Linked DNA regions of Homo sapiens: region 1 is linked to region 2. Evidence: fine-mapped expression QTL. A gene starts in region 2. The other region holds a variant in brackets. All regions are shown on one strand. Distances are between the middles of the regions.

Evidence for each region.
Region 1: its variant is fine-mapped to the expression of OSBPL10 in whole blood (TOPMed, PIP above 0.99).

Annotation. Positions count from the first base shown.
Region 1 is chr3:31,958,133-31,963,505 of GRCh38, forward strand. All of the region lies in intron 1 of OSBPL10 (oxysterol binding protein like 10), which reads right to left. Among named protein-coding and RNA genes, the nearest start is that of OSBPL10, 20 kb to the right of the region's middle. The variant A/C (reference allele first, on the strand shown) is at 2,845.
Region 2 is chr3:31,979,054-31,984,426 of GRCh38, forward strand. OSBPL10 (oxysterol binding protein like 10) reads right to left here and starts at 2,209. Exons shown (of 12, transcript NM_017784.5): 1 at 1,846-2,209. The coding sequence starts at 2,126. It overlaps ZNF860 (zinc finger protein 860), which reads left to right and starts at 2,697. Exons shown (of 2, transcript NM_001137674.3): 1 at 2,697-2,849. RefSeq lists an enhancer at 295-344 and a silencer at 1,899-1,968.

The sequences.
Region 1 (5,373 bases), 21 kb before region 2:
TTGTGACCACAATGTTAACTTAGAGCTAAAGCGTGACTTTGCCACTAAACATCTTTCAGCCCCTGAATAGCCAATTACCTGATTTACTTTAGCTCTGGCCTGATTTCTACTAATATTTAGGGCTGAAGTAAATAATGAGTGAAGTATTACTCTTGCAATTGAAAAAAGTTAAAAATGCACAAAATGACAGTACACCTCACAAATTAGTCCTTAAAAATATCTTCTCTGACAAATCTAGTTTGTATGTTTTAGGCCTCACTAGATCCAATGTAGTAACAACTGTCAGATATATGGTGTGTTATGCTTTTTAATAATATCAACTGGTATTGCGCACATCAGGACTTCACAGAGGTACATATGCAGGAGGACAAGACTCAAAAGAAATGCACAAAAATCAGTAACAGTTGTATTAGGATGGGAGGACAAGGGCCCATTTTTTTCCCAAAAAAAGTCTTTATATTTGTTATGTCAACTTTTCAATAACACAAAGCATCTTTCTCACCATGGATGCTACATTTCAACTGAGATGTTTATGTTCTGAATACTGGATTCTTCTCTCTCTCACACAAGAGCCAAGGGTGTTTCGGCTTTGTGTTCCAAAAGCCTCTAAACTAGAGAACAGGCCTTTGAGCCAAATCCAGCCCACCACTTATTTTAGCAAATAAGGTTTTATTGGAACAGAGCCATGTCTATTTGTTTACATATTGCCTAGGGCTGCTTTTATGCTGCCATGGCAGAGTTGAATTATTTACTATCTGACTCTTTACAAAAAAACCTTTCTAACCCCTGTACTAAACCAAAGAGTAAGCACTCCAGCACATGGGAAACTCATTAATGCACCATGGAAGAGACTCCCAAAGGTCAAATGTCATCTCTAAAGGGTCAGGGCCCTAGAAGACACTTCCAGTAATTGTGATCCAAAGTAGCAGTTCAAGAGTGGAGACGCACGCAATGGAATCACACATGCTGCATTTGCCAACAAGCCAAGGTCCAGGCAAGAACAACTCTCAATTAAAGAGTGCTCTGTCCTAAAGAAATGCTACGAGATATCGGCTCACAGAGAAAAGTCTCAAATTTTTAATGCAGTCTAATCAAATTTAGCCAGGTCCCTTCCTGAATTTACAAGTCCACCTTCTCTTTTTGCAGCACTATAAACAGTGTACTATCTACTGATAGATCAGAAGCAGTCCTAAAGGCCAGTTCTGTATTCATAACCTGGAAAATAAAATAAAAGCAACTTTGTCTACTGAAAACTACTGTTAAACCCAGTCTTTTTGCTATATATCAGAGGAAATTAGCATGAGACTCAGAGATAAGATATCCCAAACACAATCTGTTAATACCCCAGGATCACTGGGTTCAAGGAAGAGCTCTCTGCACATTTTGAAGTTTTCGCCATCACTCAAAGCAGCTAATACATAAGCCAGAACATCAGATGAGTCTCAGGGCATCAGCTAGATAATGAGAAGCCAGCGGGTATTCTTTGCTATATAACAAAACACAAGGCAAAAAGACCATTTTTAGCATCACCTTTCTGGAGTTTTTCCAAAACTGACTGAGAAGCATATTCTGTTTCTTGTTCTAACTCAGCGACAAACTCCGTGTGTAACTTTGAATTAAATGTCATCTATTTGAGGCAGTTTCCTCACCTGTAAAACAGAACTTGGGCAAGTTCACCTGAGCACCTTCAAGCCTCAGAATAATGCTCCATGAAAGAAAATGTTAGCCTCCCTCTCCCCTTGACTAGGTTATTTTGGTTTATTGTGAAAAACACTTGCAGAAAAAGGATACAGGAAAAATGCCAAAATTATTCCTGGATTGTGACGTGGCCACTGTGCTACTTAAAATCAGGTTCTCTCAAATGCAGAAAATGAAAGTTGCCTATCAGTGAAGAAAAACAAAACTCTCCCTCTTAGGTCTGATGTACTCCATGGAAAAATGTCCTTCCAAACTCCCTGAGGCAGGGAAGACTATCTTAGCACTTTGCTGAGTGCTTAAGAAATTACGTACCGAAAAACTTCCCTGATCTTGAAGCAGCTCACAGTCTGGGAATCTGGCAGATAGGGAGTCTCAGAGATCGCTTCTGAACTTTTACCAGCCTCCCAAAACAGCACCTCATCCCTGGGCCCCTGGGTGCCAAAGGAATCCTTCAAAATAAGGCTGGATCCAGCCACACTCCGCTTGTCACTCAGACCCTCAGCTTCCCTCACCACGTTCAGTAATACAATGTGAAATGAAACAAACCAGAACCCTGCATTCAGGGTATTCACATTCACAATAACAAGGGCATTTGCATCAATTAGGATTATAAACAGACTGTGGAAATGAGATGCAATAGGGGAACCAGTTTAAATATTTTGTTGTCTGGCCAAATTCCTTATTCAGATCCAATTGACCTAAATGAGAAAGCAAGGCTAAAATGGACACCAGAAGGTTGCAAGCTAGTTTACATAACACAGGCCCTCCCCAGCTTAAACTATCCATTTCCAAGTAAAAATGGAAGTTAACCCTTTCTCCTCTACGTCTCTCTCTTCACAAGCTCAGAAACCAGAAGAGCATCTCTGAACCTTCCCCACTCTGGAAACTGTTGCAAGAGACTGTGCAACCCACTTCTCCCTCAAGGCCATCAGCCATGTGCCATCTGTGCCCCTACCCCACCCTACAAATGCTCACCACCAGGAGAGAATTACCAGCACTCTCTCTTACAGAAAAACCATCCTCTTTATCCTCTTTAATCCTTATTCCTCCTTTAAAAGGGAAAATAGATTACAAGGTCTAAAAACCTGACCTACAAAGGGTTAAAACCAAACTGCTTGAACCTCAAAGCTGCCCAAAAAATGGTGT[A/C]AACCACCTAGCAGCTCACAAATTCCCCAAGGGACCTCCTTCTGTCAATGTTTAACCAAGAAGCTACAGCCTTTTTTTTTTTTTTTTTTTTTTTAACTTGCCAGAGCCATTCTACATCAAATATTCTTCATGTGCAACCCACTCCATAAAGAATGAAGCTATTCTATAACAAATCAAGTTCTGAAGCTCTCCAAACCCACTCTTTGGCTCAACAATCAAATATGGAGCACCACCTAAGCAAACACGAGCCCTGTACTGTCCTTGTGGGTGAGGCTAGATCACGAGTCACCAAACAAGAATGTGGTGGTAGAACCTAAATTTGAGGGATCTGCAGTGCCCAGGAAGCCAGGGAAGGCTTCAGGAGAAAAGTGAGCTCCCAGGGCTCGGAAAGCTAGCGTCTCTGATTTTATTTTAGTAGACAGATACTATTTTTAAAATGTAAAGTATCATTAAAAAGGCTGTGCATGTGTTGGAGTAGGGGAGACATGGGAACTCTATATTTCCAATTTTGCTGGGAGCCTAAAACTGCTCTATTTAGAGAGTGTGTGTGTTAATAATGTTAATAATGCTAATAATGCTGGGAGGGGGCTGGGCTAATTATTGGTGTCTTTTGACATTTGTATTTTATTTATTTATTTTTTAGAGACAGGGTCTCACTCTATTTCCTAGGCTGGAGTGCAGTGGTGCAATCATAGCTCACTGCAGCCTTGAACTCCTGGGCTCAAGCCATCCTCCCATCTCAGCCTCCTGAGTATTAAATTTCATTTTAAATGGCATATATTCTAGTGTATAATTATAATCTTTACAGAAATTAATTAATGTACACCAGCAGATGTTCCTGTTATATTTCTAAAGGTTCCCTTTCAAGATAATTGCTATTAATTACATTTAAATAAGTTCTCTAATTTTGGCATCACCAGTTTTGTTTTGGTTTTTTTTTTTTTAAGAGTTTTTTTTGGCAGAGGGGAGGGTTGCTTTTTTTTATTTTTATTTTTTGAGACGGAGTCTCGCTCTGTCGCCCAGGCTGGAGTGCAGTGGTGTGATCTCAGCTCACTGCAACCTCTGCCTCCTAGGCTCAAGCAATTCACCTGCCTCAGCCTCCTGGGTAGCTGGGATTACAGATGCCCACCACCACGCCCAGCTAATTTTTTTGTATTTTTAGTAGAGATGGGGTTTCATCACGTTGGCCAGGCTGGTCTTGAACTCCTGACCTCAGGTGATCTGCCCACCTTGGCCTCCCAAAATGCTGGGATTACAGGTGGGAGCCACCGCGCCTGGCCGGCATCACCAATTTTGGATTCGAGGTCCTGTAGCCTACTATTAACACAGATAACAACTATAATTCTGTTGAATAAATGATTTTCTAAGCAAATAACAACAATAAAGTTATTTCATGGGTATAGTTTCAATTTGGGATGATAAAAAAGTACCGGACATGAAAAGTGGTATTGGTTTCACAACAGTATGAATATACTTATGCCACCAAACTGTACACTTACAAATGGTTAAAATGGTAAACTATATGTTCTACATATTATAAAAGTAATGAAACACTATTTTTTTTTTTGAGATTTCACCATCTTTAAATGGGAACCAGCACAGGAGAAGTGCCATAAATACTCTGCCTGATTCCAGGGGGCTTTTACCCGCAAGAAATGTACAGTTAGGGTTTCAATCGCTCCCATTACACTAAGTTGTAACGCAAGCTCCCTGAGACAAAACTTTTCCATTTGGCTGTTTTCACAAAGACCACAGGAGCACATAAAGTCTTGTCTAGGGGAGCAAATCCAAATCACTTGGGTGCAAGGTAAATGCACAAATGGGAAAAGCCAATGCCAAAATCACTGCTGCTTTGATAGCATTCACTAAACAAATATTGAGTACCTACTATGCGCCAGGCACTGTGCCAGAACTTAGGTCTAATGCCTGATCTCCTGGATCTTGCAATACAATGACTTGCTTTCAATCAAAAGACTTCACTTTTGTGGCAATTTCAAATAATATTACAGGAAGTGGTGTGACTCCTGTTTCTCAAAGGAGCCATGTGTTTCCTTGTTTTCTGTTTTTTTAAATGTGTACTTTGAAATGACTCAAACTTACCAAAGAGTTGCAAGAATATGACAAAGAACTCCTCTATCTCCCTTCACACAGATTCAAAAATTATTGATGTTTGCGTACATCTGCTTTATCATGCTCTCTAGCCATCTCTCCCCTCCCTTCTCTCCCTTCCCCGTCCTTCCTTCCTTTCCTCCCCTCCACCCACATCCATCCATCTCCCTCCCTTTCCCATCCCCTTCTCCTTATATAAAGTGTTTCCTCAACCATCTGAGAATGAGTTGTAGACATCTCCCTTTATTCTTAAATATTTCATATTTATGTATTTATGTATTTTCCAAGAACAAGGACATTTTCTTATAGAACCATATGATGATCAAGTTCTCACAGTTTAACACTGATTAAATACTATTACTTAATACTTAAATGCTGCCAGTTCTTCAAATGATGACAGCAGGAGTGATGCACAGATTC
Region 2 (5,373 bases):
AAAGCATTAAGTGATTGCTCAACACACCAACAAAATGCTGTTACTGACAAGGCACCTTGAGTTGCCATTAACGAGACATAATTACCAAGAACTGAAATCAGATTTAGTCATCTCATATCTCCCTCTACCTACGCATTCTACCTATTCTTTTTCAGCTTTCACGAATTGAAAGGGGAAGGGAGAGGCAACAGCAGACACTAGGACTATTTTGAGAAATAAAAGGATTCAAAAGTTAAGTGCAACTTCCACTAACATAGTAACACATCTCCCAGGAAGCCCAGGTGACTCAGAAAGTCCTATATGTAGAATATCAATATAGAAACAACTCAGTTTCCATACTTCAAAAGACCTCTTCCTCCAAGTTGAGTTTCGTGCAGATAACTGGCTGATATGTTTCAGATGGAAGCAAATCTGAACATTTCCAAACAATCTACAGGAAGAGATAACCAAGTAATATAGTCCATGCAGCAGAGATAAGCAACTTTCCAGGGTATAATTCAAATCTCACAAACATCCTTAAGAGCCCCAAGTCTATTAAGATCTGGAGACTGTTAAATAGGCAGGACAAAATATCCCACCAACCACCTCTCCAAAAAGCATTGTTCTCCTCGCACTGACACTTGTATTTCCCTCTGGCTTGTTTTTGGAAAACAAATTGAAAAAAAAAACAAAAACAAAAAGTAAACAGTAGTGCCACATCTGTTCTTGTCTTCCTCACGATGGCAGATCACACACACTACCACCATTCCAAGTGCCTCCTGAGCCCCTTTCCTCGACAGCCCCATCCTTCCACGTGTCCATAACTAGGCTTCTCAACTGCAAGGGGGAAGTGAGCAGGAAACTTCAAATGGGACCTGAAGAGGAAATAATGATAATAATGTAAATTGCTACTAATATTAAAAGGGGGAGGGTATTTTTTCTTTCTTTTTATTATTTTATTTTATTTTATTTTATTTATTTATTTTTTTTGAGTCGGAGTCTCGCACTGTCGCCCCGGCTAGATTGCAATGGCGCGATCTCGGCTCACTGCAACCTCTGCCTCCGGGGTTCAAGCGATTCTCCTGCCTCAGCCTCCGGAGTAGCTGGAATTACAGGCGCGCCGCCACGCCCGGCTAATTTTTTTTGTTTTTAGTAGAGACGGGTTTTCACCATGTTGGCGAGGCTGGTCTCGAACTCCTGACTTCGTGATCTGCCCGCCTCGGCCTCCCAAAGTACTGGGATTACAGAGGTGAGCCACCGCGCCCGGCCTCTTTCTGTTTTTAAACAAAACTTCCATTACAAACATCGGAGGCTGCAAGGCACAAACTGGGGCAGGAGTATGCACAGTCGCCCAGGATGACAAGTGGCAGGTTTTTTGTTGATGGTGGTGGTGTTCTGAAACACCAAACTTTAAAATGAACTGTTACTTAGAGAATTACTGTAATCGGAGCGGACGTGCTAACGCTTTTTCACCCCGGCACAAAGCACGCCCCTTCTGCCTCCCTTTCCCAGTCATTCTTCAGGCGTGCGGGAAACCGCGGACAAGCAGAGCACGGGGACCAGCACGATCCTCCTGCCACCACTCCAGTCTCTGCAGGTGCCAGCATAGAAGAAAACCAGGGCTCTCGCCTCCCTCCCCGCCACTGCGGTGCGGTCCCGGGGTGGAGCCACGGCGCGCCCCATCCTGAGAACCCCACCTGGAGGGGAGCAGGGACGCAGGAAGGGCACCGTTGGGAGGCATCACTGGGTTCGCTGAAGGCACAATCGCGCGCGCACACACATACACAGACACACATACACACACGCACGCACACACACACACACACACACAGCGGCGCGCGGTGGCGCGGGCGGCTGGCGCGTTACCTGTTCTGCCAGCCCTGGAGGAGGTTGGTGTATTTGCTGAGCACGCCCTCGAGCGCCGGCTCCCTCCTGCGGCCGCCTCCCCCGGACGGGCTAGCGGCCACAGAGCCCGGGCTGCTGCGGCTTCCCCCGCCGCCGAGCCCGGCCGCCGCCGACCGGCTGGAGACCCCCCGGCCCGCCAGAGAGCAGGAGGGCGAGGAGCCCGCCGAGGTAGCACGGCTGCTGCTGCGGCTGCTGCTGTTGCTACCCCCGCCGCCGTCTGTGCCCTGGACTGCCCTCTCCATGGTCCGTGGGCGCCCGGGACGCGGGTGCCCGCCGCGGTGGCGGCCCCGGCACGGCGGCTGCTGCTGCTGCTACAGCTCCGGACGCCCGGGCCGCGCGTGCCTGCTCCAAATCCCCGGGAAATGCCTGACTCATACAGGAGGAAGAGGAGGAGGAGGCGAAGGAGAGCTGGGAAGGAAGCCAACGGGGCTGGATGCAGCTGCGGCCGCCCCTCCTCCCGCCGCGGCCAGGGCCCGGCCCCTCCCTCCGCACTAGTTTCCCGGGCAAGTTCGGAGCGGGTGGCCGGCTAGGCGAGCCCTCTTCGGGTTCCTCCTTCTCTTCCTTCGTGTCCCTGCGGCCTCTCAGGCCCTCGGGACACTCTAGGAGGCCGATCTGCAGGGTGGGCACGCCCTAAATCCACGCCAAGTCACCCACGCATTCCTTCTGCCACCCTCTCTTGGATCCGAAGGGGCGAAAGGGAATCTCTGCACGTCACTCCCCACCCCTTATCCACCTCGGGACCTGGAGGGAGGGGCAGCCCCACCCACCCGGTCCACCCGGATATGGACCCGCCCGGCCTGACAGGCTCACACGCACACTCCCTCTCTCGGTCTTCCGCACACGATGCTGCGCCAGACGCTCCTACACAGTAACCTGGAAATTATCACCGGCGGAGCAAAGTCACAGCTCAGGGAGGCCCTCCGCGTTGTCTGGCGGAGGAGGGGAGTGGCAGGTGATCCTCACAGGTAAGCTCGCCGGGCATTTTCATGCAGCAGGATTATGATAAATGCTTAACAGACACACGGCTGGGCTGGGGTGAGGCGCGCGAACTCTCAGGTTTGTGCGAGTGCTTCCTTAAATTGAGTGTCCTAGGTCACTCACTGGCCTAACCCTAATCCCCTGCCCTGAATGGCACGCATAAACCTGGCAAGTCAAAACCTATCCATTGCTACCACACTGCACGTGCACCTAGGAGCAGAGGCTCTGAAACCGGGAAAACTGCTCCAGAGGCAAGGGAAATTAACAGATATTTACAAACATTGAAGGATTCTCTGTGTTGGCTGTAACTTCTGCGCCCCTCTTCCTACCTAAAGATACTCTTTCTATCCCACTAATATTTTTTGTGAATATAGATATCCATTGTAATCTGAAGTATCAAAAATTACCTAGAAAAAAGCTTTGAGGAACTCAGACTCTCTCTCTCACACACACACAGACAAAACAAAAGGTGATAGATGATAGGTGATCTCCGTCCAAAGGATCTACAAACCCATCAAGCAGATAAATACTTCAAGAGTTAAAAAAAATTACTAAATGGAAAAGTCAGCTCTCAAAGGGACAGTTCCCCGAGCCCAACCCCTTTCTAGCTTCACATCCTTCCAGGAAGATTTCATGGGTGGTTTAGCTCTAGAGATGCACGGAGAAGCTTCTGGAGTTGAAGAGAAGTGGTTGTGCCCCTGAGTAAATTACAATTCCAGGTGCCTACATAGTGTTAAAAAAAAAAAAATCTGAAAAGAGCTTGCCTGGACCAAATTTGAAGCCATTCAGAGCTGAATTCTAACCTATGACCTTGATCAAATTACCTCTTTTAGCCTTAGTTTTCTCACTGCAAAATGGGACAAATGATACCGGCTGTAATAAACTATGCAAGAATGTTCATTTGTTCAAAATATTTACTGCCGCTTCCTATGGAAAGAGTATCCTTCCTCCACATGGACCTTAGGCTTGGCCATGGAATTGCTTTGAGCAATGGAATGTGAACAGAAGTAATGAATGCCCCTTCCAAACATAAGCTTTAAGAGCAGTCATATGGTTCCACCATCTTTCTCTTTTCCTTATCCCAGGAGAGCAGCATGTCCCGGATAAGGACTCTCCTTAAGCTTGTGTCCTGGAGTGAGAAGGTGTGGAATACAGCAGATCCTAAGCCAGTTAGTGTTGGCCATGTAACATGCACAAAATGTTTGTTTGAAGCCATTGAGATTTTAGCATTATTTTTTACCACAGCATAGCTTTGCCTAAGCTAACTTACTGATCATATATGAGTGTTCATTGAGTCCTGCATTGACATACAGACTGAAGGTGGGAAGGTAGGTGCATACTGGACTATAAATGTCAGCATTATGTACCAAAACAACATGCCTTTTATTGGAGACTGCCACCTTAAGCTCCTGCTAAAAGAGGAGAAGTGTCATTTTATTTCATATTACCTAACCTATGCCACCATTACTCCACCTTATGCAGCCAACCTAAGACTGAATGAGCTAGCACAACAAATTCTCACCTTGGACTAAAAAATTAGACCCTTGAGATAGACCAGTTCAAGTGGGGAAGGAACTAAGCTAAAAGGAATAGTCAAGGCCAGGATGGGGCAGGAGCAAGCCAGCCGTATGGGATCAAAAATGTCCAAGAGGTGAGTGGAGCAGATGTGCTGAAAGTAGAGGCTATATCATGAAAGAGTGATGAAGCACATGCTGTTCCTCCTGCTGGTGACACTGTTCCCTGCTCTCTTCACCCGGTTTGTGTTTCTCACCCATGGAGTTATGGATTACAAGTCACTTCTTCCAGAAAGCTTTCCTTGACCTACCGTAGTATAGCAAATAGGGAAAAGGTACCTGCAGAATTATGTTTGGAGAGGAAAAAGTCTTTATGTTTGAAAAACAATTTGGAAAATACATAATAAGTTGGCAAAAAGTATTTGAAATACATACTGTAATGCCCAACAGTTTCATCTTGCTTGTTACCCGGAAAAGCCAATGCAGGTTTTTGCAATAGAGGAAGAGTTTAACAATTGTAGGGCCAGCCAAGCTGGAGCACAGGAGTGTATTATTACTCAAATCAATCTCCCTGAAAATTCAGAGCCTAAGGGGTTTTTTTTGTTTTTGTTTTTGTTTTTGTTTTGAGACTGGAGTCTCGCTCTGTCACCCAGGCTGGAGTGTAGTGGCACGACCTCAGCTCACTGCAAGCCCTGCCTCCCGGGTTCACGTCATTCTCCTGCCTCACAGCTTCCCCAGTAGCTGGGACTACAGGCACCTGCCACCATGCCCAGCTAATTTTTTTGTATTTTTAGTAGAGATGGGATTTCACTGTGTTCACCAGGATGGTCTCGATCTCGTGACCTCGTGATCCGCCCACCTCGGCCTCCCAAAGTGCTGGGATTACAGGCGTGAGCCACCGTACCGGGCCCACCTAAGGTTTTTTTTTTTTTAAGGATAGTTTGGTGGGCAGAGGGCTAAGGATGGGGAAGCTGATAGATTGGGTGAGGGATGAAAT